Regions from separate parts of the Homo sapiens genome. Here regions 1, 3 and 4 are each linked to region 2. Evidence: fine-mapped QTL for protein levels in blood plasma. A gene starts in region 2. Each other region holds a variant in brackets. All regions are shown on one strand. Distances are from middle to middle. Region 1 has its middle 5.5 kb from the start of TM4SF5. Region 2 holds the start of VMO1 (vitelline membrane outer layer 1 homolog). Region 3 has its middle 13 kb from the start of TM4SF5. Region 4 holds the start of CXCL16 (C-X-C motif chemokine ligand 16).

The links. PIP is the chance, under the fine-mapping model, that this variant and not a neighbour inherited with it causes the effect. Protein levels are from antibody-based Olink assays in UK Biobank. Linkage for the fine-mapping came from a reference panel and not from the study's own genotypes, which makes the PIPs less certain.
Region 1: its variant is fine-mapped to the plasma level of the VMO1 protein (UK Biobank, PIP above 0.99).
Region 3: its variant is fine-mapped to the plasma level of the VMO1 protein (UK Biobank, PIP above 0.99).
Region 4: its variant is fine-mapped to the plasma level of the VMO1 protein (UK Biobank, PIP 0.96).

The regions. Positions count from the first base shown.
Region 1 is chr17:4,763,797-4,768,941 of GRCh38, reverse strand. No RefSeq gene overlaps it. Among named protein-coding and RNA genes, the nearest start is that of TM4SF5, 5.5 kb to the left of the region's middle. RefSeq lists a silencer at 4,716-4,878. The variant G/A (reference allele first, on the strand shown) is at 2,055.
Region 2 is chr17:4,783,916-4,789,060 of GRCh38, reverse strand. VMO1 (vitelline membrane outer layer 1 homolog) reads left to right here and starts at 2,697. Exons shown (of 3, transcript NM_182566.3): 1 at 2,697-2,903; 2 at 3,009-3,124; 3 at 3,402-3,776. The coding sequence starts at 2,709. The coding sequence ends at 3,699. It overlaps GLTPD2 (glycolipid transfer protein domain containing 2), which reads right to left and starts at 97. Exons shown (of 4, transcript NM_001014985.3): 1 at 1-97. The coding sequence starts at 49.
Region 3 is chr17:4,756,109-4,761,253 of GRCh38, reverse strand. No RefSeq gene overlaps it. Among named protein-coding and RNA genes, the nearest start is that of TM4SF5, 13 kb to the left of the region's middle. The variant A/G (reference allele first, on the strand shown) is at 2,066.
Region 4 is chr17:4,738,017-4,743,157 of GRCh38, reverse strand. It overlaps CXCL16 (C-X-C motif chemokine ligand 16), which reads left to right and starts at 3,230. Exons shown (of 6, transcript NM_001386809.1): 1 at 3,230-3,897; 2 at 4,238-4,376; 3 at 4,668-4,750. The coding sequence starts at 3,819. It overlaps ZMYND15 (zinc finger MYND-type containing 15), which reads right to left and starts at 3,325. Exons shown (of 14, transcript NM_001136046.3): 1 at 3,108-3,325; 2 at 2,018-2,639; 3 at 1,342-1,576; 4 at 1,088-1,243; 5 at 667-827. The coding sequence starts at 2,609. RefSeq lists a silencer at 3,139-3,358 and enhancers at 2,907-3,811, 3,812-4,717. The variant GC/C (reference allele first, on the strand shown) is at 1,015.

The DNA.
Region 1 (5,145 bases), 20 kb after region 2:
GACTCCATCTAGAAAAAAAAAAAAAAGATACAAGGAAAAGGGTCACATTGGATCCCACCCTAGATCACCTGACCCCCAGCCAACTCCTATGTGTGTATCAGTGAAATAAATGCTTATATTTATTTGACACTAAGACTTCGTCGAGGGGGATGGTTTGTTGCCCAGTAACAAGTTCCTAACACAGACCCCCTTATCTAGGCCAGGGCTGGTTGATTGAGGAACAAGTAGCTGACCCAAAGGCAGACATGTAGCCAGCGACCTGTGAGGTCTCTCGAGGTGAGAACTCCATCCAACAGAGGTACACTGACTGGATAATGACCAATCCACCGACTGGATCTTCATGATTGGGAAATGTGTCTGTGAGACAAGCTGAGACAGTCATCAGAGAGTGGGGTGGCTTCAAACTGAGAGTTGTATGCAAGAAAGAAGCAATCAAAAGCCAGAGGCAACTGACACCAGAAATAAGCAGAAGTCACAGCAAGAGAAGTGTATGGAGAATAGTTACTCTGAAACAGCGCCAGAGGGAGAAGCACAGGCACTGGAAAACTCTGGTTCCTCAGGAGGTGGCCGATGAGAGGTTGTCACCAGCACTAATGTTGAACTACCAGAGCAACTGTCATATCCCGAATAGTGGCCCTTCCAACCGTGGACCTGAAGAGGGGATTCAGCCATTGATCTGATGGACAGAGAGCAGGGCCAAGAGCTGGCCACCTATTTGTCTACAAGTTGCTCAAGCTGATTCTGAGAGATGGTGCCTCTTTTTTATTTTTTTTTAAACAGAGTTTCACTCTTATTGCCCAGGCTGCAGTGCAGTGGCGTGATCTCGGCTCACCGCCACCTCCGCCTCCCGGGTTCAGGAGACTCAAGTAGTTGGGATTACAGGTGCCCGCCACCACGCTTGGCTCATTTTTGTATTTTTTGTGGAGATGAAGACAGGGTTTCTCCATGTTGGCCAGGCTGCTCTCGAACTCCTGATCTCAGGTGATCCACCCACCTCGGTCTCCCAAAATGCTGGGATTACAGGTGTGAGCCACTGCGGCCAGCCAAATGGTGTCTGTTTTGAGGATGAATAAAGAGAAAAAAAATAGTTGTGTGGGTGGGGTGGTCCACAGGCATTCATTACATTATTTTTATACAATTCTGGATGAATGAAATAATGTTAATAATGTTAACAAAACATTATAGGGATTCTGAAAAATTTTCTCAAAACCAGGGAAGGGCAAATCAACCTGAAGACTGAAAGAAACAGAATCCTCTGGAGGAACATTTACTATAGGATTTGGAAGAGATTTCCAGGAAGATTTTTGATGACATCACTAGAATTCTCCTGGAACTAGGAACAGAATAACTTAAGAAAGAAAAGGCTGGCCGGGCGCGGTGGCTCACGCCTGTAATCCCAGCACTTTGGGAGGCCAAGCTCGGTGAATCACCTGAGGTCAGGAGTTTGAGACCAGCCTGGCCAACATGGCGAAACCCCATCTTCACAAAAAATACAAAAATTAGACAAGTGTGATGGCAGGCACCTGTAATCCCAGCTACTCAGGAGGCTGAGGCAGGAGAATCGCTTGAACCCGGGAGGTGGGGGTTGCAGTGAGCCGAGATCGCACCATTGCACCCCAGTATGGGCAACAGAGCAAGACTCCATCTCAAAAAAAAAAAAAAAAAAAAGGTCCAGGCTCAGTGGGTCACGCTTGTAATCCCAGCACTTTGGGAGGCCGAGGCGGGCAGATCACCTGAGGTCAGGAATTCGAGACCAGCCTGACCAACATGGGGAAACCCCGTCTCTACTAAAAATACAAAAATTAGCTGGGCATGGTGGCGGGTGCCTGTAATCCCCGCTACTCAGGAGGTTTAGGCAGGAGAATCGCTTGAACCCGGGAGGTGGAGATTGCAGTGAGCCAAGATCACGCCATTGCGCTTCAGCCTGGGTGACAGAGTGAGACTCTGGCTCAAAAAAAAAAAAAAAAAAATTCAGGAAACTGGCTTCTCCTAAGAACAAGAATAGAACTGGTGGAAGTGACACCACAGTTAAAACATCTGCACTAGGAGAAGAC[G/A]TCACTGAGCGCAGATAGATCCACTCAGGTCAGTGGGTTGAAAGTTATACTGCACGGCAGGTAAAATATTAAAAGTCAGCTGACCATAGATTCATCCTGACAAAATATCTGAATTAAAGGATACATCTAGGCAGAATTTAAAAAGGCTACTTAGAAAGAAACAATAGTTGGTGTGGCCAGAGTCTTCTCTGAAATACTGAATGTCAGAGGACAAAGGAGTAAGGCAGCTGTGTCCACCAAAAAAGGTAGAACTATCATATACATGTCTAAGTTGCATTTTGTATGTTAAGGGCAACACAATTGCATTTCTGAGAATGTTTGGATTTCAAAATAACACTTTGGCTCCTTTTTTTTAGAGAAATTGTGTTGACTCACCAAGAGATGAAGTAAAATAAAAACCCCAAAATGGGGAAGTCTTGACGTAAGTCTAAATAAATTTCATATATCTGGTTACAAAACTGGATGCACATTTTGGAAAAAAATATTTTTCTTCTCTTTTGTTTTGAGTCAGAGTCTTGCTCTGTCATGCAGGCTGGAGTGCAGTGGCGTCATCTTGACTCTGCAACCTCAGCCTTCTGAGTTCAAGCGATTCTCCTGCCTTAGCCCCCCAAGTAGCTGGGATTACAAGCATGGGCCACCAGGCCTGGCTAATTTTTATATTTTTAGTAGAGACTAAGTTTCACCATGTTGGAGGGTGGTCTTGAACTCCTGACCTCAAGTGATCCACCTGTCTTGGCCTCCCAAAGTGCTGGGATTACAGGTATGAGCCACCACAACCCGGCCAGAGCCATTGTGCCCAGTCTCATTTTTTTTTAAAGACAGTGTCTCACTCTGTTGTCCAGACTGGTGTGCAGTGGCATGATCTTGGCTCACTGCAAACTCTATCTCCTGGGCTCAAGTGATCGTCCTGCCTCAGCCTGCCAAGTAACTGGGACTACAGATGTTCACCACCCACCATGCTTGTCTAATCTTTTTGTGTGTATATATGTAAATATATATATATATATTTTTTTTGAGACAGAGTTTCACTCTTGTTGCCCAGGCTGGAGTGCAATGGCGCAATCTCAGCTTACTGCAACTTCTGCCTCCCAGGTTCAAGCGATTCTCCTGCCTCAGCCTCCCTAGTAGCTAGGATTACAGGCATGTGCCACCACGCCCGGCTAATTTTGTATTTTTAGTAGAGACAGGGTTTCTCCATGTTGGTCAGGCTGGTCTCAAACTCCCGACCTCAGGTGATCCGCCCACTTCGGCCTCCGAAAGTGCTGGGATTACAAGTGTGAGCCACCGAGCCCAGCCATCATTTTGTATTTTTTGTAGAAATGGGGTTTCATTTTGTTGCCCAAGTGGTCTTGAACTCCTGGGCTCAAGAAATCTGCACACATAGGCTTCCCAAAGTGTTGGGATTACAGGCGTGAGCCACTGCACCTAGCCCCGTAAAAATTTCTTTTGAAGTGGCCGGGCGTGGTGGCTCACGCCTGTAATCCCAGCACTTTGGGAGGCCGAGGTAGGCGGCTCACCTGAGGTCGGGAGTTTGAGACCAGCCGGACCCACATGGAGAAACCCCATCTCTACTAAAAATACAAAATTAGCTGGACTTGGTAGCGCATGCCTGTAATCCCAGCTACTTGGGAAGGCTGAGGCAGGAGAATCGCTTGAACCTGGGAGGTGGAGATTGCAGTGAGCCAAGATCGCGCCATTGCACTCCAGCCTGGGCAAGAGCAAAACTCTGTCTCAAAAAAAAAAAAAAAAAAAAAAATTCTTTTAAAGGGCAGCTGTATAATGTAAATTCTAAAAATGATATTAATACTATTAAATATGTCATTATTGCTTGCCATACTCTGGGTCCATTGTAAGGAACTATACCAGGTAACAGAAAACCCAACTCTATTGCAACAAAAAGGGAATTTATTGGTTCAAGCAATCAAAACATCCAGTAGGACTGAAGTAGGACTAACTGCAGGTGCAGTTTGGTCCAGAAGTTCAGGATGTCATCAGTGTTCTTGTTTCTCTGCCATTCTCTCTGCTGTTCCTTTTTTTGGCTTTGACTTCCTCCTTAAGTGGGATCTTCCTCCTGACAGTAGTATTAGCTGCAGCAGTTCAGACCTTATGTCTTTACACCCTACCACCAGGAGGAAGAGAATCTCCTCGCATAGCTTTCCCTGAGTAGAGAGGAAGTTTCTTTCCCATTTACCCCAGAAAATTTCTCCTTGGTGCAGACTGGGTTCTATGTCTGTCCCTTACACGGATCACTGTGGCCAGAGGGTAGAACATGCTGTATGAGTCTGTTCTCACGCTGCTAATAAAGACATACCCGAGACTGGTACTTTATAGAGGAAAGAGGTTTAATTGACTCACAGTTTAGCATGGCTGGGGAGGCCTTAGGAAACTTACAATCATGGCGGAAGGGGAAGCAAACATGTCCTTCTTCACATGGAGGCATTCCAGCACAGGGGGTGTTGTCAATTCTGTCTAAGCCACCAGGCTGGGAAATTAAGGGCAGTATTAGGAAGGAGGAAAGACAGAATGAATGATGGGGAGGCATCCAGCGAATATCCTCTCCAGGGAATCTGTCTAAACTCTGTGGCTCCGTACTCACTGCCCATAGCTGAGTAGCACATGCTTGACCTAGTATGTGACAGAGATAGTGAGTTAGTCCCAGTCTTCTGCTTTTATTATAGTAGCAGACTTTGTAGTCTGCTGCTAAAGGCACATGGCTGCTAAGCTAGAGACTATATTTTCGGCCAAGCCCGGTGGCTCACGCCTGTAATCCCAGCACTTCGGGAGGCTGAGGCGGGTGGATCACCTGAGGTCAGGAGTTTGAGACCAGCCTGGCCAACATGGTGAAACCTCATCTCTACTAAAAATACAAAAATTAGCCAGGCGTGGTGTCTCACGTCTGTAATCCCAGCACTTTGGGAGGCCAAGGCAGGTGGATCACCTGAGGTTGGGAGTTTGAGGCCAGCCTGACCAATATGGAGAAACCCCATCTCTATAAAAATACAAAATTAGCCGGGCGTAGTGGCACATGCCTGTAATCCCAGCTACTCCGGAGGCTGAGGCAGGAGAATCGCTTGAACCTGGGAGGCGGAGG
Region 2 (5,145 bases):
AGTGGCTGAACCAGTGCCGCAGGGCTGGGGGCCGCGCCGCCACTCCCATGCCTGCTGCTGGGACCGCCGCCCCCTCACCAGCGCCTAGCCAGTCCGTGTCCCTCCGCCTCCAGGAGGGGACAGAAGCCCGTGGTGCCCTGAGGCGCAAAGGATTAATAATTAACCTACTAAGGCCCCTTCCCCTGTGCCCTTCGCCCCAAAGGGCAGCTACCCTGGGTGCGAGGAACTGGGTGAAGGGAATTTGGGGGATTCGACAGCAGTGACAGATCAGTGCATTTCCCTTCCCTGTAGGGCCAGCTGTAGCAAGAGGCACTCTGAGTATTGGGAAGAGAGGCAGGGCCCAGAACAGCTCCCCTACTGAGCAGTGGTGTGGGCCCTAAATTCACTCTGGGCTTGAGTTCCCTCCACTGTAAATTGAGGATAATAATAGGTACTTTGCAAGCCTCATGTGAGGATTAAATGATAACGTATGTGAAAACACTAAATGGAAAAGCTGACCACAATTGCCCTATAAATCTTATTAAGTTCAAGCATTGTCCGGCTCTGGGATCCAGGGAACACCCACTTCTCTCTCGCTCTCTTTTTTTTTTTGTTTGTTTTTTGTTTTTTTGTTTTTTGAGACAAAGTCTCGCTCTGTCGCCCAGGCTGGAAAGTGCCGGCTAATTTTTACATTTTTAGTAGAGACAGGGTTTCACCATACTGGACAGGCTGGTCTCGAACTCCTGACCTTGTGATCCGCCCAACTTGGCCTCCCAAAGTGCTGGGATTACAGGCGTAAACCACCGCGCCCAGCCGGGAACACCCACTTCTAAATTCTCTATCTTATTCCCAGGGGACTTTGTCTTGACCTGGATACATGACCTCTTGCAATCATATACGTACGTCAGGCTTTATCCTTTTGCATTTTTGTGGTTTAATTTTCAAAACTCCAGATTGGCTCTTCAATCATTCATTGCACCAACTTTTATTAAGTACTTCCGCACGTACTAGGCTTCAAGAATACAAAAGTGCCTTCACAGAGCTCAAGGTCCACTGGGGGAGAATTTATCCTCTGTCTCCCCCACTGGAATGTGACCTCTGATGACAGGGGCCTTGTTATTCTTGCTTACAGCAAGTGGAATATTGCTTAAGCCAAAACATATTATTGCTAAATAGGTATTGAATAAACAAAGGAGTGTGTATGAGGGGCAGGTAAATCTGGGGTTGTGGCCCCTAACAAATTTAGCCAGGCATTTTTAGGCCAGGCACGGTGGCTCACGCCTGTAATCCCAGCACTTTGGGAGGCCGAGGTGGGCGGATCACCTGAGGTCAGCCTGGCTAACATGGCAACACCCCGTCTCTACTAAAAATATACAAATTAGCCGGGCGTGGTGGCGAACGCCTATAATCCCAGCTACTCGGGAGGTTAAGGGAAGAGAATCGCTTGAACCCGGGAGGCAGAGGTTGCAGTGAGCCGAGATGGCGTCACTGCACTCCAACCTGGGCAACAGAGTGAGACTTCGTCTCAAAACAAACAAACAAACAAACAAACAAAAAACATACTTAGCCAGATTTTCTCGCTTTTTGTTTTGCAAATTAGGAGTCCATCTGGTGGTCACAGGGGGAAAGGCATTCCAGGAAAGGATATAAGGATACAGAAAGCAATGGAAGAAACAGCATGATCTTTTCTTAGGGGTTCTTAGTCTCCTGTCCCCAAACTTCTTAGAGTTATTCCTGTTGGACCGGGCGCGGTGGCTCATGCCTGTAATCCCAGCACTTTGGGAGGCCGAGGCAGGCGGATCACAAGGTCAAGAGATAGAGACCATCCTGGCCAACACGGTGAAACCCGGTCTCTACTAAAAATACAAAAATTAGCGGGGCGGCGTCTTGGCGCGCGCCTGTAGTCCCAGCTACTCGGGAGGCTGAGGCAGGAGAATCGCTTGAACCCAGGAGGTGGAGGTAGCAGTGAGCCGAGATCGCGCCACTGCGATGCCGCCACTGGGCGACAGAGTGAGACTTCGACTCAAAAAATAAAAATAAAAAAGAATTATTTCTGTTTGTATATGTCTTCTTCTAAGGTAGGGAGGAGTGTCCCGGATTCTCAAGGTGTTAGGGCCCTGAGCTCTCAGAAGACCTCTCAGAGGAGGAAGAGACTTCTGAGCTGACAGGAGTTTTCTCAGCTTCTCCAGTTCGAGGATTCTTGTCCTATCCTCACTCTGATGTCCCCTCACATCCTGGAGGTCTCTGGGTTGCTCTTGCCCCATCCCGTCACTGGTGGGACTCCCGGGAGGTCACTTCCATCCCTAGCCCTGGTCTCTGCTCTGTCTCCACTCTCACTGCTGGAATGTTTCCCAGCTTGCTTGGCTGTAAACCTAAGGCAAGTTGCTTGCCATTTTTGAGCCAGTTCCCTCATCTACAAAATAGGAAGGATAATTCTCACCCCCCAAAAATTGTTGTGAGGGTTAAACAAAATACTGCAAAGCGCTAACCATAATTCGTAGCCTATAGTAAATATTCAGTAGGTGATGGTTATTTTAATTCGCCCTCTCTCACTGCCCCTCCTACCCTAGCTCTGGGAGCCTCTGCCTCCGGGAGCAGGAAATAGGGTTCCGGGAGTGGATTAGTTTTGGGTTTCACTTAATCTGGGAGGCCCTTCCGCAATCGGAGCCCTCACAGAGGCCAAACTGATATAAATCTGCTTAGGAGGCCTGATTCACAGACGCTACAGGATGGAGCGGGGCGCAGGAGCCAAGCTGCTGCCGCTGCTGCTGCTTCTGCGGGCGACTGGTTTCACATGTGCACAGACAGATGGCCGGAACGGCTACACGGCGGTCATCGAAGTGACCAGCGGGGGTCCCTGGGGCGACTGGGCCTGGCCTGAGATGTGTCCCGATGGATTCTTCGCCAGCGGGTTCTCGCTCAAGGTTGGGGCTCAGGCGTAGGTCCTGGAGAGGGCGGAGATGCGTGGGACCATAGAGCCAAGGATGATAATTCCGTGACTCGCCCTTGCCCCTCTCCTCGATACCCAGGTGGAGCCTCCCCAAGGCATTCCTGGCGACGACACTGCACTGAATGGGATCAGGCTGCACTGCGCGCGCGGGAACGTCCTAGGCAATACGCACGTGGTAGAGTCCCAGTCTGGAAGGTGGGGCGCAGGGGTCGAGGATCCCTTGGGGTGATGGTATGTCCCTTACCCTCTATTACATACTCCGTCGCAACAGGCAGGCTGGCTCCGCCAGAGCTACGGGGCAGTATAGACCGGGGAGGCGAAGGGTGGATGGAAGACCCCTCCTCCGCTCCTCGGCGGAGGTCGGGGAGCACCCAGCCCACCAGGTCATATACACAGCACTTGGCTTGGAAAGTCTCAAGGGCTTGGTGAATGGGGGGCCCGCAGAGGCAACGCATCTCCCTTTGCCTTGCAGCTGGGGCGAATGGAGTGAGCCGCTGTGGTGTCGCGGCGGCGCCTACCTAGTGGCTTTCTCGCTTCGCGTGGAGGCACCCACGACCCTCGGTGACAACACAGCAGCGAACAACGTGCGCTTCCGCTGTTCAGACGGCGAGGAACTGCAGGGGCCTGGGCTGAGCTGGGGAGACTTTGGAGACTGGAGTGACCATTGCCCCAAGGGCGCGTGCGGCCTGCAGACCAAGATCCAGGGACCTAGAGGCCTCGGCGATGACACTGCGCTGAACGACGCGCGCTTATTCTGCTGCCGCAGTTGAACGGCGCCGCCGCCGCCGCTCTCTCCCGGGCCAGGAGGCTAGTCCCACCTCTTGCTATTAAAGCTTCTCTGAGTTGACTTTGGTCTCGCCTGTTTATTTCATTTATTTATTTATTAATTTATTTATTTGAGACGGAGTATCGCTCTGTCCCCCAGGCTGGAGTGCAGTGGCTCACTCGGCTCACTGCAAGCTCTGCCTCCCGGGTTCACGCCGTTCTCCTGCCTCAGCCTCCCGAGTAGCTGGGACTACAGGCGCCCGCCACTACGCCCGGCTAATTTTTTTTTTTTTTTTTTGTATTTTTAGTAGAGACGGGGTTTCACCGTGTTAGCCAGGATGGTCTCGATCTCCTGACCTCATGATCCGCCCACCTTGGCCTCCCAAAGTGCTGGGATTACAGGCGTGAGACACCATGCCCGGCTGGTCTCGCCTGTTTAAGGGATGGGGAACTGAGTCTCCTTTTCCCCTCCTAACTTAGCATTAGGTGAGGCATACATTTGGATTTGGTCTCAGGGGTCTATGGTAGATTGCTGAAAAGTTATGGACTCGAGAAAAACGCACTTAAACAGATAATTTTCAGACAAGTGATGGAAGTCTGGCTTTTTTTTTTTTTTTTTTTTTTGGAGTCTCACTCTGTCACTCAGGCTGGAGTGCAGTGGTATGATCTTGGCTCACTGCAACTTCCACCTCCTGGGTTCAAACGATTCTTCTGCCTCAGCCTCCTGAGTAGTTGGGACTACTGGTACCCACCACCATGCCCAGCTAATTTTTGTATTTTTAGTAGAGATGGAGTTTCCCCATGTTGGCCAAGCTGGTCTCAAACTCCTGACCTCAAGTGATCCACTGGCTTCAGCCTTCCAAAGTTTTGGGATTACCGGCTTGCACCATCGTGCGGGCCCAGGAAGTCTGGCTTTCTGAGAGAGTCTGCAGACACCCTGCCCCCATTAGGTGCCTAGGTTGTCTCCTTTCTGAACCAGTGACCTAAGATTAAGAAAATTCTACCAAATTATGGCCAGATGTGGTGGCTCACAGCTGTAATCTCAGCACTCTGGGAGGCTGAGGTGGGTGGATTGTTTAAGCTCAGCAGTTGGAGACCAGCCTGGGCAACATGGTGAAATCCCCTCTCTACAAAAAGTACAAAAATTAGCAGGGGTATGGTGGTGTGCGCCTGTAGTCCCAGCTACTCAGGAGGCAGAGGCAGGAGGATTGCTTTAGCCCAGGAGGTGGAGGCTGCAATGAGCCGAGATCGTGCCACTGCACTCCAGCCTGAGTGACAAAGTGAGACCCTGTCAAAAAAAGCAAAAAAAAAAAATTCTATCAAATTAGGAGGTGACAAGGCCACAATGGCTTTACAGTTCCATTTTCTAGAGCTTAAGAGGTTACAGTGTCTTTTCCATAGTTTTCATTATTTTCTCCTACAGAACTGATCCCTGTTTAGGATCTTTGTCC
Region 3 (5,145 bases), 28 kb after region 2:
ACACACAGTACCAATTACATTAGCACTGTCCCAAATTAAATACTTACATATAAATCTAACAAAATACGTATAAGATCTACATGAAGAAAACTACAAAACTCTGATGAAAGACATCGAAGAAGATATAAATAAATGGAGAGAGTCCATGTTCATATATAGGAACACTCAACATTGTCAAGATGTCAGTTCTTTCCAAATTGATCTGTATCTTCAACACAATCCCAATCAAAATGCCAGAAAACCATTTCATGGATATTTACAAACTGATTCTAAAGTTTGTCTGGAGGGGCGAAAGACCCAGAATAGCCAACACAATATTGAAAGAGAGCAAAGTTGGAAGATTGACACGACCCAGCATCAAGACTTACTACAAAGCTCCAGTAGGGCTGGGCATGGTGGCTCATGCCTGTAATCCTAGTGCTTTGGGAGGGTGAAGCGGGAGGATTGCTTGAGGGCAGGAGTTGCAAGTTACAGTGAGCTGTGATTGTGCCACTGCACTCCAACCTGGGTGACAGAGCAAGACCCTGTCTCTAACAAAAACAAACAAAAGGCCAGGTGTGGTGGCTCACACCTGTAATCCCAGCACTTTAGGAGGCTGAGGTGGGTAGATCCCTTGAGCCCAAGAGTTCAACACTAGCCTGGACAACATGGTGAAACCCTGTCTCTATTAAAAAAAATAAATAAATAATAATAATAATAATAAACCAAAACCGCCGGGCGTGGTGGCTCACGCCTGTAATCCCAGCACTTTGGGAGGCTGAGGGTGGTGGATCACCTGAGGTCAGGAGTTCGAGACCAGCCTCAACATGGAGAAACCCAGACTCTACTAAAAATACAAAATTAGCTGGGCATGGTGGTGCATGCCTGTAATCCCAGATACTTGGGAGGCTGGGGCAGGAGAATCACTTGAACCTGGGAGGCGGAGGTTGTGGTGAGCCAAGATCTTGCCATTGCACTCCAGCCTGGGCAACAAGAGCGAAAGAAACTCCATCTTAAGGGAGAAAAAAAAAAAAAAGTAAAAGGCTACAAGTATATGACTTTCTGGAAAAAAACAGAACTCTGAAGACAGTGAAAAGGTCAGTGGCAGCCAGGGGTTGGTAGGGAGGGGAAGGAGGAATAAACAGAGCACAGAGGATTTTAGGGCAGTGAAACTTCTTTGTATGATACTATATATATACTGGTGCGTCATTATATATTTGTCTAAACCCATGGAACGTGCAACACCAAGAGCGAATCCTAATGTACACTATGCGATGGACTTTGGCTGATAATGACGTGTCAATGTAGTTCACTGATTGGAACAAATCTATCACTCTGGTGCCGGATGTTGATAGTGGGGGAGGCTGTGCATGTGTGGGGGTAGGAGTATAAGAAAACACTATACTTTCGGCTAGGCACAGTGGCTCATGCCTGTAATCCCAGCACTTTGAGAGGCCGAGGCGGGCGGATCACTTCAGGTCAGGAGTTCAAGGCCAGCCTGGGCAACATGGTGAAACCCCATCTCTACTAAAACTACAAAAAAAAAAAAAAAAAAAAAAAAAGAAGAAGAAGAAAAGAAAACTCTGTACTTTCTGCTCAATTTTGCTGTGAACCTAAAACTGCTTTTAAAAAATAAAGGCTATTCAGCCGGGTGCGGTGGCTCATGCCTGTAATCCCAGCACTTTGGGAGGCCGGGGCGGGCAGATCACTTGAGGTCAGGAGTTTGAGACCAGGCTGCACAACATGGCGAAACCTCATCTCTACTACAAATACAAAAATTAGCCAGGCATGGTGACGTACACCTGTAATCCCAGTTACTCCGGAGGTTGAGGCAGGAGAATTGCTTGAACCCAGGAGGCGGAGGTTGCAGTGAGCCGAGATAACACCACTGCACTCCAGCCTCGGTGACAGCAAGCGTGTCTCTAAATAAATAAATAAATAAATAAATAAATAAATGCTATTAAGAAAAAAAATCTTCAAAAAGATAACATGCTTTAAAACAGAAATCAAAAGGAAATGATGTATTAAGCATAGAAATAAAGTAGTGGAGCGAAAATTTGTTAGTGAAGACATCAATTTTGTTGAC[A/G]CTATTTGGTAAAACAAGAATGTGTCACTAGCTTAGAAGAAAATCTCGGAGACAGTAGTGGAGCACTTTTTAAAGAAATTCCGCTTCTCCAATGCCCTCGACAGTAGAGGGGACAGCAACACAGGCACTGATAGAAAGTGATTCAGAAGAGTCAGACTTTAAAGATTTTTTTGGAATATTTTAACCATATTATTTTTGTTTTTGTGTACGCACCAGAATTAGATTTTTTAATGGTCTGAAAGAGACTTCAATTAGCATAAAATAAAAATTGAAGTGTTAAGAAAGCATTGTATCATGGTTTGGCCGGGTGCTGTGGCTCACACCTGCAATCCCAGCACTTTGGGAGGCCGAGGCAGATGGATCACTTGAGGTCAGGAGTTTGAGACCAGCCGGACCAACATGGTGAAATGTCATCTCTCCTAAAAATACAAAAATTAGCCGGGCATGGTGGTGCACGCCTATAGTCCCAGCCACTCAGGAGACTGAGGCAGGAGGATCGCTTGAACCTAGGAGACAGAGGCTGTAGTGAGCCAAGATGATGCCACTGCACTCCAGCCTGGGCGACAGAGCCAGACTCTGTCTCAAAATAAACAAACAAACAAACAAACAAAAGCATGATGTATAACACTTGAAAGTATTTAAGTCAGTGAAATGCAGGATCGAGTACCCTCTGTGTAATGTGCCTAGTTGTGGACCCAGTGGATACAGCACTAAACTTGACAGATGAGGTACCTCTTCGTAGTTTATATTATAGTTTGGGGAGACAGGCAGTAAACTAGAAATTAGAGGTTATGCTAAATTACATGAAGGAAATAGGGTGGTGTGGTAGAGAGTGACTGGGAGGCAGCTACTGGGAGGCAGCTACTCAAGATTTGCTGGTCAGGGAATCGGAACTACCCTTAGACCTGGACAGGAGGGGCTCTTACTTGGCTGTCTGCTTAGTTCAGTACTTCTCAAACCGTAACTTCATACAGATTTCCTGAAGATGGTGTTAAAAGCAGATTCCGGGCTAGGCACGGTGGCTCATGCCTATAATGCCAGCACTTTGGGAGGCCGAGGCGGGAGGATCACCTGAGGTGGGATTGTAGAGGAGAGCAGTGGAGGGAGGGAGACCAGGAATGAGAGTGATGCTTTTCTGAGGACCCATGAATTGCCACTGAAGGTGTTTGGCAATGTGACCTGGGGAGGAGTGGGGGTTGAATGCTCTCTGAGCAAGGCAAGGCCAGAGTTATCAGCTCCTGAGAACTAAGATCGACGTGAGGACCAGATGGAGTCATTAGAAGGGAAACCATCTCAGATGATGAAGATTGTTTGAAATCAGATTTTTCCATAGAAACCCTGCAAATATAGCCCTTTGACATTTCTCTCTTCTTCCTTCTCCTAGCTCAGACTCCTGGAGATCAGGAGACCAGAACTTGTTCACCCTCCTCTACAGTGAGCAGACACTGACATGCCAGAAAAAAAAAAATGCATTTGGCTGTAATATTTGCAAGACCCAAGAAGGTACTGGGAATAAATTTATTTCCATAGAGGAAGTGGTTGGTGTTTTATGAGAAAGGGCACTCAGTCTCAAAAAAAAAAAAAAAAAAAAAGAAAAGAAAAAAAACCCCAAATAGTTAGAAATGCCGAGGGAGACTGTCAGAAATATAATAGTAGTGGGAAACTGTAATATAATTCTCTTCGACAAAGTAAGAAAAATATACAAACGTATAAAGAAACAGAGAATCTCAATGATAAAGTTGATTGATTAGTTAGCCTCTCATTCAACAAATATTTACTAAATGATATGTGCCAGGCCCTTTGCTGGATACCAGGAAGATATCAGCCATAAATACATCATCGGTGAACATCCTGAGCCTCCATCCTCCTGGAGCATGTATTCAAGTGCTATTTACTTGACTTTGTATCTCATAAATGGAGAACCTACCTTTTTCAATGCCAATAAAACATTTACAAATCTTGGTCAAATATTAGGCCGTGAAGGAGATATGAAATTCCCCAAACTTGAAATTGTACTGGACTGATACCCAGACCATAATGCAATAAACCAGAAATTTCTAAATGTTTAAGTAACAGCGACCTCTTAAAAAATCCCAAAATAGTTCTAATCAGTGAGAATATTCAAATTGCAAGTACAGATGATTATAAACAGACAATGAGATGAGGCTTGGTAGCTGATGCCTGTAATCCCAGAATTTTGGGAGGCCAAGGCAGAAGGGTTGCTTGAGGCCAGGAGTTCAAGACCAGCTTGGGCAACGCAGTGAGATCCCTGTCTCTCCAAAAAATTTTTACTTAAATTAGCCTGGCATGGTGACACACACCTGTAGTCCCAGCTACTCGGAAGGCTGAGGCAGGAGTATTGCTTGAGCCTAGGAGGTTGAGGCTGCAGTGAGCCAAGGTCACACTATGGGGCACAAATAATAACAGATTTTTAGGAGTGTGTTGCTGTTGTTGTTTTTTAAGAGACAGCATCTCGCTATGTTGCCCAGACTGGTCTTGAACTCCTGGCCTCAAGCAATCCTCCTGCCACAGCCTCCCAACATGCTGGGTTTACAGGCATGAGCCACTGCGCCCAGCCATGTTATTATTTGATAATGAACTAAGCTTGGTGTTAGGGGCTTCTCATACTTTGTTGTATATAATCCTCACAACTAACCTAGGGTAGCACCCTGCAGCTGAGTAGGCACTCAGTAAGTATTTGCTGAATGAGTGGATGTAGCTCCGAGTGAAAGTAAGTTGCCTGGCCAGGTGTGGTGGCTCGCACCTGTAATCCCAGCACTTTGGGAAGCACAGACGGGGAGGATCCCTTGAGCTAAGGAGTTCAAGACCAGCCTGGGCAACATAGGGAGACCTCTGTATTTTTTTTTTTTTAAGAGACAAAAAAAGGCCACCACACCCGACCTTTTTTTTTTTTTTTTTTTAAATAAAGTGACTTGCCTAAGACTACACAGCAGAAGTTAGTCAAGCTGGGGCTTACACTTAGGAGGCCTCTGCTTAGTTCTGTGCTTGTAACTGCGATGCTACTCGATCAACGTGGTTGTTGAAACATGCAGACAGGAAGAGCTAATGATTTAAGATGG
Region 4 (5,141 bases), 46 kb after region 2:
AAACGATTCTCCCACCTCAGTCTCCCGAGAATTGTGACCACAAGCGAGTGCACCATGCCTGACTAATTTTTTCTATTTTTTGTAGAGACAGAGTCTATGTTGCCCAGGCTGATCTCAAATTCCTGGGCTCAAGTTGGCCTCCCAAAGTGCTGGGATTACGGGTGTGAACCATTGCCCGGCCTAGAACCCCAGCCTTGAACTCTCCCTAGCCTCCCGCGAGGACCCTGGTTCTAAGTCTGGTTCCAGTCAGGCCGGGAACTACCATTTCTGAGTGCCTCCAGCGTACCAGGCACCAAGCCAAGATAATCCTTGTAACAATTCCATGGGCCTTCTCCGTATCCCTCATGAGGACACGGAAGCTTCAAGAAGTAAAGTGGTTTGTTTAAGGTCACACTGCAGTTAGTGGTGGAGCTGGGAAGCAAGTAAGTGTTTGAATCCCTGTCCCCCAATCCCTGCACGCTCTCAGGGACCCAGACACTCAGGCCTCGGCTTCAGAGACCCTGTCTCCAGCCCCAAACACCCAGCCCCTGCCCTTGTTCCAGGGATCTAGGCTCTAGCCCCAGACACTCAGCCTTCAACTGCAGGACCCTGTTCCCAGACATCTAATTCCCAGTCTCAAAGACCTGGTCCCAGTTTCCCCCAACCATTCTGACCTCCTTATGGTACCTGCGGTGTAGGTAAAAGGCAGGGTTGCCAGTTCTCCTGCCCGCTCCATGAAGGCTGCAAGCCTTGGGCACCAAAATCGGTGACTCACATCATCTGGGCACCGCTGCCAGTCAGCCCGGAGACAAGCCTCTCCACAATACAAGACAGCACTACACTGGGGGCTGGGGACACAGCGGGTGGTGGGCACCTAGTGTTAACCTCTGTAGGTCCTGTCTGCTGTTCAACTGCCCAGCAGCTGCCCATATGTCACTCGGTCTGTTTGTCTTACACCCTCTAACCGCCTGTAACAGTCTGTATTGTTTCCTCTGCATCTTCTCATGTCCCTGCCTCTCCTTCTGTCTGCTAGGC[GC/C]CCCCCACCACCCTGCCTTCCTTCTATTTGCCTATTGGGGTCTTCCTCTCCCCCAGCTTTGGGGCTGCTCACCAAGGTGTCAGCTTCGCTTCAAAGCTGTGCCTGTGACACACATGGCAGGTTCGAGCACGAAGGGAAGCAAAGGTGAAGCCTGGCCGGGGACCCCATGTCCGCATTGGGGTTTTGGCTAACTTCACACCTAGCCTTGGGACCAAGCTCTCCAGCTCTCTAAATGCAGTTGGGGGGGAGATGGCATCAGGCTGGAGGAGGTGCTTGGGAATCCAGGGCCCGAGTCCTCCCCAGCCTCAGATACCAGATTTCTATACCGATGCAGCCGGGCATCTCCCACAGTAAGCTGTCGGGGCTTTCGGGGATCCCCAGAGCCCATGGGACAGGCCATGCTGTGACAGAGGAGAGCATAGGCCCAAGGAGCCAGGTCCTTGGTCCCTGAGCCCCAGCTTGCGGTTCCCTGGGCTCCATCCACTAGCAGATCAATGCCCAAGATGGTGCCATGCTCATCCGTCACAAGTAAGAGACAGGAAACGTGCAGGGGGGCAGCCTCTGGGGAAAGAGGGAAAAGTTGAGGTGGTAGGGGGCAGCGAGAGACAAATGTGGTCAGGGTCAGGAGTACCAAACTCAAATACCTACGGGGCTAGGCAAGTAACCTCACTGAGTAAAGGGCTCTGGGTAGAGAGGGCACGCTCCTTCTAAAGGGGACAGCTGCTACAGAGGACCAGAATGCGCTGCCATGCAGAAATGTAGGCCCACTGTCAGAGCTTGAGATTTTTCTTGGGAATGTGTAAATCCAGACTTCTGGATACTTTTTTTCTTGCAATGTTTAAACATTAAATTAAAAAAAAAAACCCCACTGTGGGTCAATAAAAACACCTTTTCAGGCCAGATTGGCCTGAAGGCCAGCACTCAGAACTAGTGGCAGGGGAGGGCTTCCGAAGGGAGGATGGCTGGGCAAGGGGTAGGGCAGGGCCAGCCCTGGGTTCTTACCACTCCTCTGTCCCTTCCTCTTCTGGGGTCTTGTTTCGTTCTCCACCCTGTCCTCTCGGCAGCCATCCTTGCCACCTCCTGCCTCCCGGGCAGCCTCCTCTGACTCTCCTGGAGGGTTTGTTTCCTGGGGGGACTCCCTGCTGGTAGGGGCTAGCTCCCGGTCCTCCTCTGGTTCCACCTTCTCTGTGCTGCCTGCACCCCCGTCCTCTCTCTTCTCTTCTTCTTCATCTTCCTCCTCTTCCTCCTCCCCTTCCTCCCCATCCTCTAGGCTGACAAAGCTGATGTAGGGGCTCAGGTCTCGCAGGTGGAGTGGAGGGTTGTCTCCCAGGAGCCAGGCAGTCCCCAGGCCTGGTCCAGGACCTGGTTCTGCCCCTTGCCCCAGGCTGATGCCCACACTATGGTTGGGCAGGACATGGAGCACCCAAAGGGCAGGGTCCTGGGGTAGCCTTCTGATCTGGGCCTCCAGCTGCCGGCAGCGGCCCTCAAGGCTAGTCCCTACAGCTCCACGCTCTGCCACAAACTTTCGGAACCAGCCGAAGAGAAGGGCAGTGAAATCAAGGAACTCATCCCGGTATCCAGACACAAACTCCATGTCTTCAGCGGCACAGGGCCCCGGCCCAGACTGAGCAAAAGAAGGGATATATGGTGAGGGACAGGAGAGCAATGATGGAGTTTGGGGCTGGGTCACAAATTGAGGGAGAGGGTAGGTTTGAGAGTCACTTAGGGTTGGATCCGTGGATATGCTAGGAGCGGAGAAGAGGATTTTTCAGGGCTGAGGATGGGAGTTTAGGGAGGAAAATGGGGGCTGGACTTGAAAGTGGGTGACCAGGGTTGGAGAAGACTACTCAGGGATGAGATGGTATTTGGGGCTTAAAATTGGAGAGTTCACACCCTCAAAAGCAGAGTTTAAATTAAGGCTAGAGAGGAGAGAGGGCTAATCCTATCGGGAACGGTTTGGTGGGGAGGGAAGCATTTTGGATGCGTCTGTGGGGTATGGGAGTGGGAGCGAGGGGGTTCCCTGGGCTCGGATCTGCGTGGCGGGCAGCCCCGGTAGACCTAGCCCCTCCCGGCCGCCCCACTCCTCCGGTACCTGCAGCCGCCACCACTTTTCGAAGGTAAATACCTCGCGGTGGAGGGTGCGCGGGTGCGGTTGTGACGTCAGGGCTGCCCGAGCCCTCGCCGGCTCAGCGGGCGGCCACGCCCCCCGGGCTCGGTGCGTCCGCGGGTGGCTGCCCCGCAGGTGCGCGCGGCCGGGGCTGGCGGCGACTCTCTCCACCGGGCCGCCCGGGAGGCTCATGCAGCGCGGCTGGGTCCCGCGGCGCCCGGATCGGGGAAGTGAAAGTGCCTCGGAGGAGGAGGGCCGGTCCGGCAGTGCAGCCGCCTCACAGGTCGGCGGACGGGCCAGGCGGGCGGCCTCCTGAACCGAACCGAATCGGCTCCTCGGGCCGTCGTCCTCCCGCCCCTCCTCGCCCGCCGCCGGAGTTTTCTTTCGGTTTCTTCCAAGATTCCTGGCCTTCCCTCGACGGAGCCGGGCCCAGTGCGGGGGCGCAGGGCGCGGGAGCTCCACCTCCTCGGCTTTCCCTGCGTCCAGAGGCTGGCATGGCGCGGGCCGAGTACTGAGCGCACGGTCGGGGCACAGCAGGGCCGGGGGGTGCAGCTGGCTCGCGCCTCCTCTCCGGCCGCCGTCTCCTCCGGTCCCCGGCGAAAGCCATTGAGACACCAGCTGGACGTCACGCGCCGGAGCATGTCTGGGAGTCAGAGCGAGGTGGCTCCATCCCCGCAGAGTCCGCGGAGCCCCGAGATGGGACGGGACTTGCGGCCCGGGTCCCGCGTGCTCCTGCTCCTGCTTCTGCTCCTGCTGGTGTACCTGACTCAGCCAGGTTAGCCGGGGGCGGGGCAGGGGACCCAGATTCCCCTGTCACGGGAAGGGGGTGAGTTGGGGAGGGGACACGAGGCCCACGGAGTTGAGTGGATGAAGGCAGCGGGGACAAGAGGAAAGCCAGCCAGCCGCCTGGGGTTGGGGACAGAGGCCCGGGGACGCCTGGCTCCGGGCGGGATTATGGATGTTGTCGGGGGCGTGATGATGTGTGGGTTGAGCCTGGCGCTCTGACCCTGGGTCCACCGAGAGGCTGTCATGGGGCTGTGGATTGGATGCCAGGGAACAGCGGAGTGGGGACCCTGGGCCTGGGAATGGGTGCCGACCACCTCCGTCCCGCGCAGGCAATGGCAACGAGGGCAGCGTCACTGGAAGTTGTTATTGTGGTAAAAGAATTTCTTCCGACTCCCCGCCATCGGTTCAGTTCATGAATCGTCTCCGGAAACACCTGAGAGCTTACCATCGGTGTCTATACTACACGAGGTAATTTTACCTGCCTCTGCGAGGGCAGCGCCTGGGCGGCCCCTCCTTGCAGGTGCCTCCAGGACCCTCTCTGGTCCAGCCTGAACTCCTTCCCGGCTCACCGAGCCCCATCTCCGGGTTCCGTTTGCTCTCATTCCCCGAAACTTCATGACTCCGTCTCACCTACTGGGGAGTTTCCCAGTCCCAGGAGAAAGGGCTCTTTCTTGGTGGCAACTTCACGCCTCTGGAATGAGGAAGGAGCCGGGGAAGGAAAGAAGGCGCCGCAGCTAAGCCCAGGTCTCTCCTCCGCAGGTTCCAGCTCCTTTCCTGGAGCGTGTGTGGGGGCAACAAGGACCCATGGGTTCAGGAATTGATGAGCTGTCTTGATCTCAAAGGTGAGACTTTTCCACTGCTCTTCAGGCTCTGCCTCCAGGGCTTAGCAGCTTCCACCTGACAGTTTTCTTTACCTGAGCCTTTTCCCCTGGGGCCGCACATTCCTAGAACCTTCTTCTGATCCTGTCCAAAGTACTTAGACTCGAGTCCCTGTTTGCCAAACGGGGTGATCATTCACCATCACCTTCATGAGTTTTGCCAATTCATTCTACCACGTGTGCTATTGTCTACTTATTAATATTTTTCTTGAAATCAAAGTACTATTTTATTTTATTTTTTTGAGATGGAGTCTCACTCTGTCACCCAGGCTGGAGTGCAGTGGCACGATCTTGGCTCACTGCAACCTCTGCCTCCCAGGTTCAAGAGATTCTCCTGCCTCAGCCTCCTGAGTAG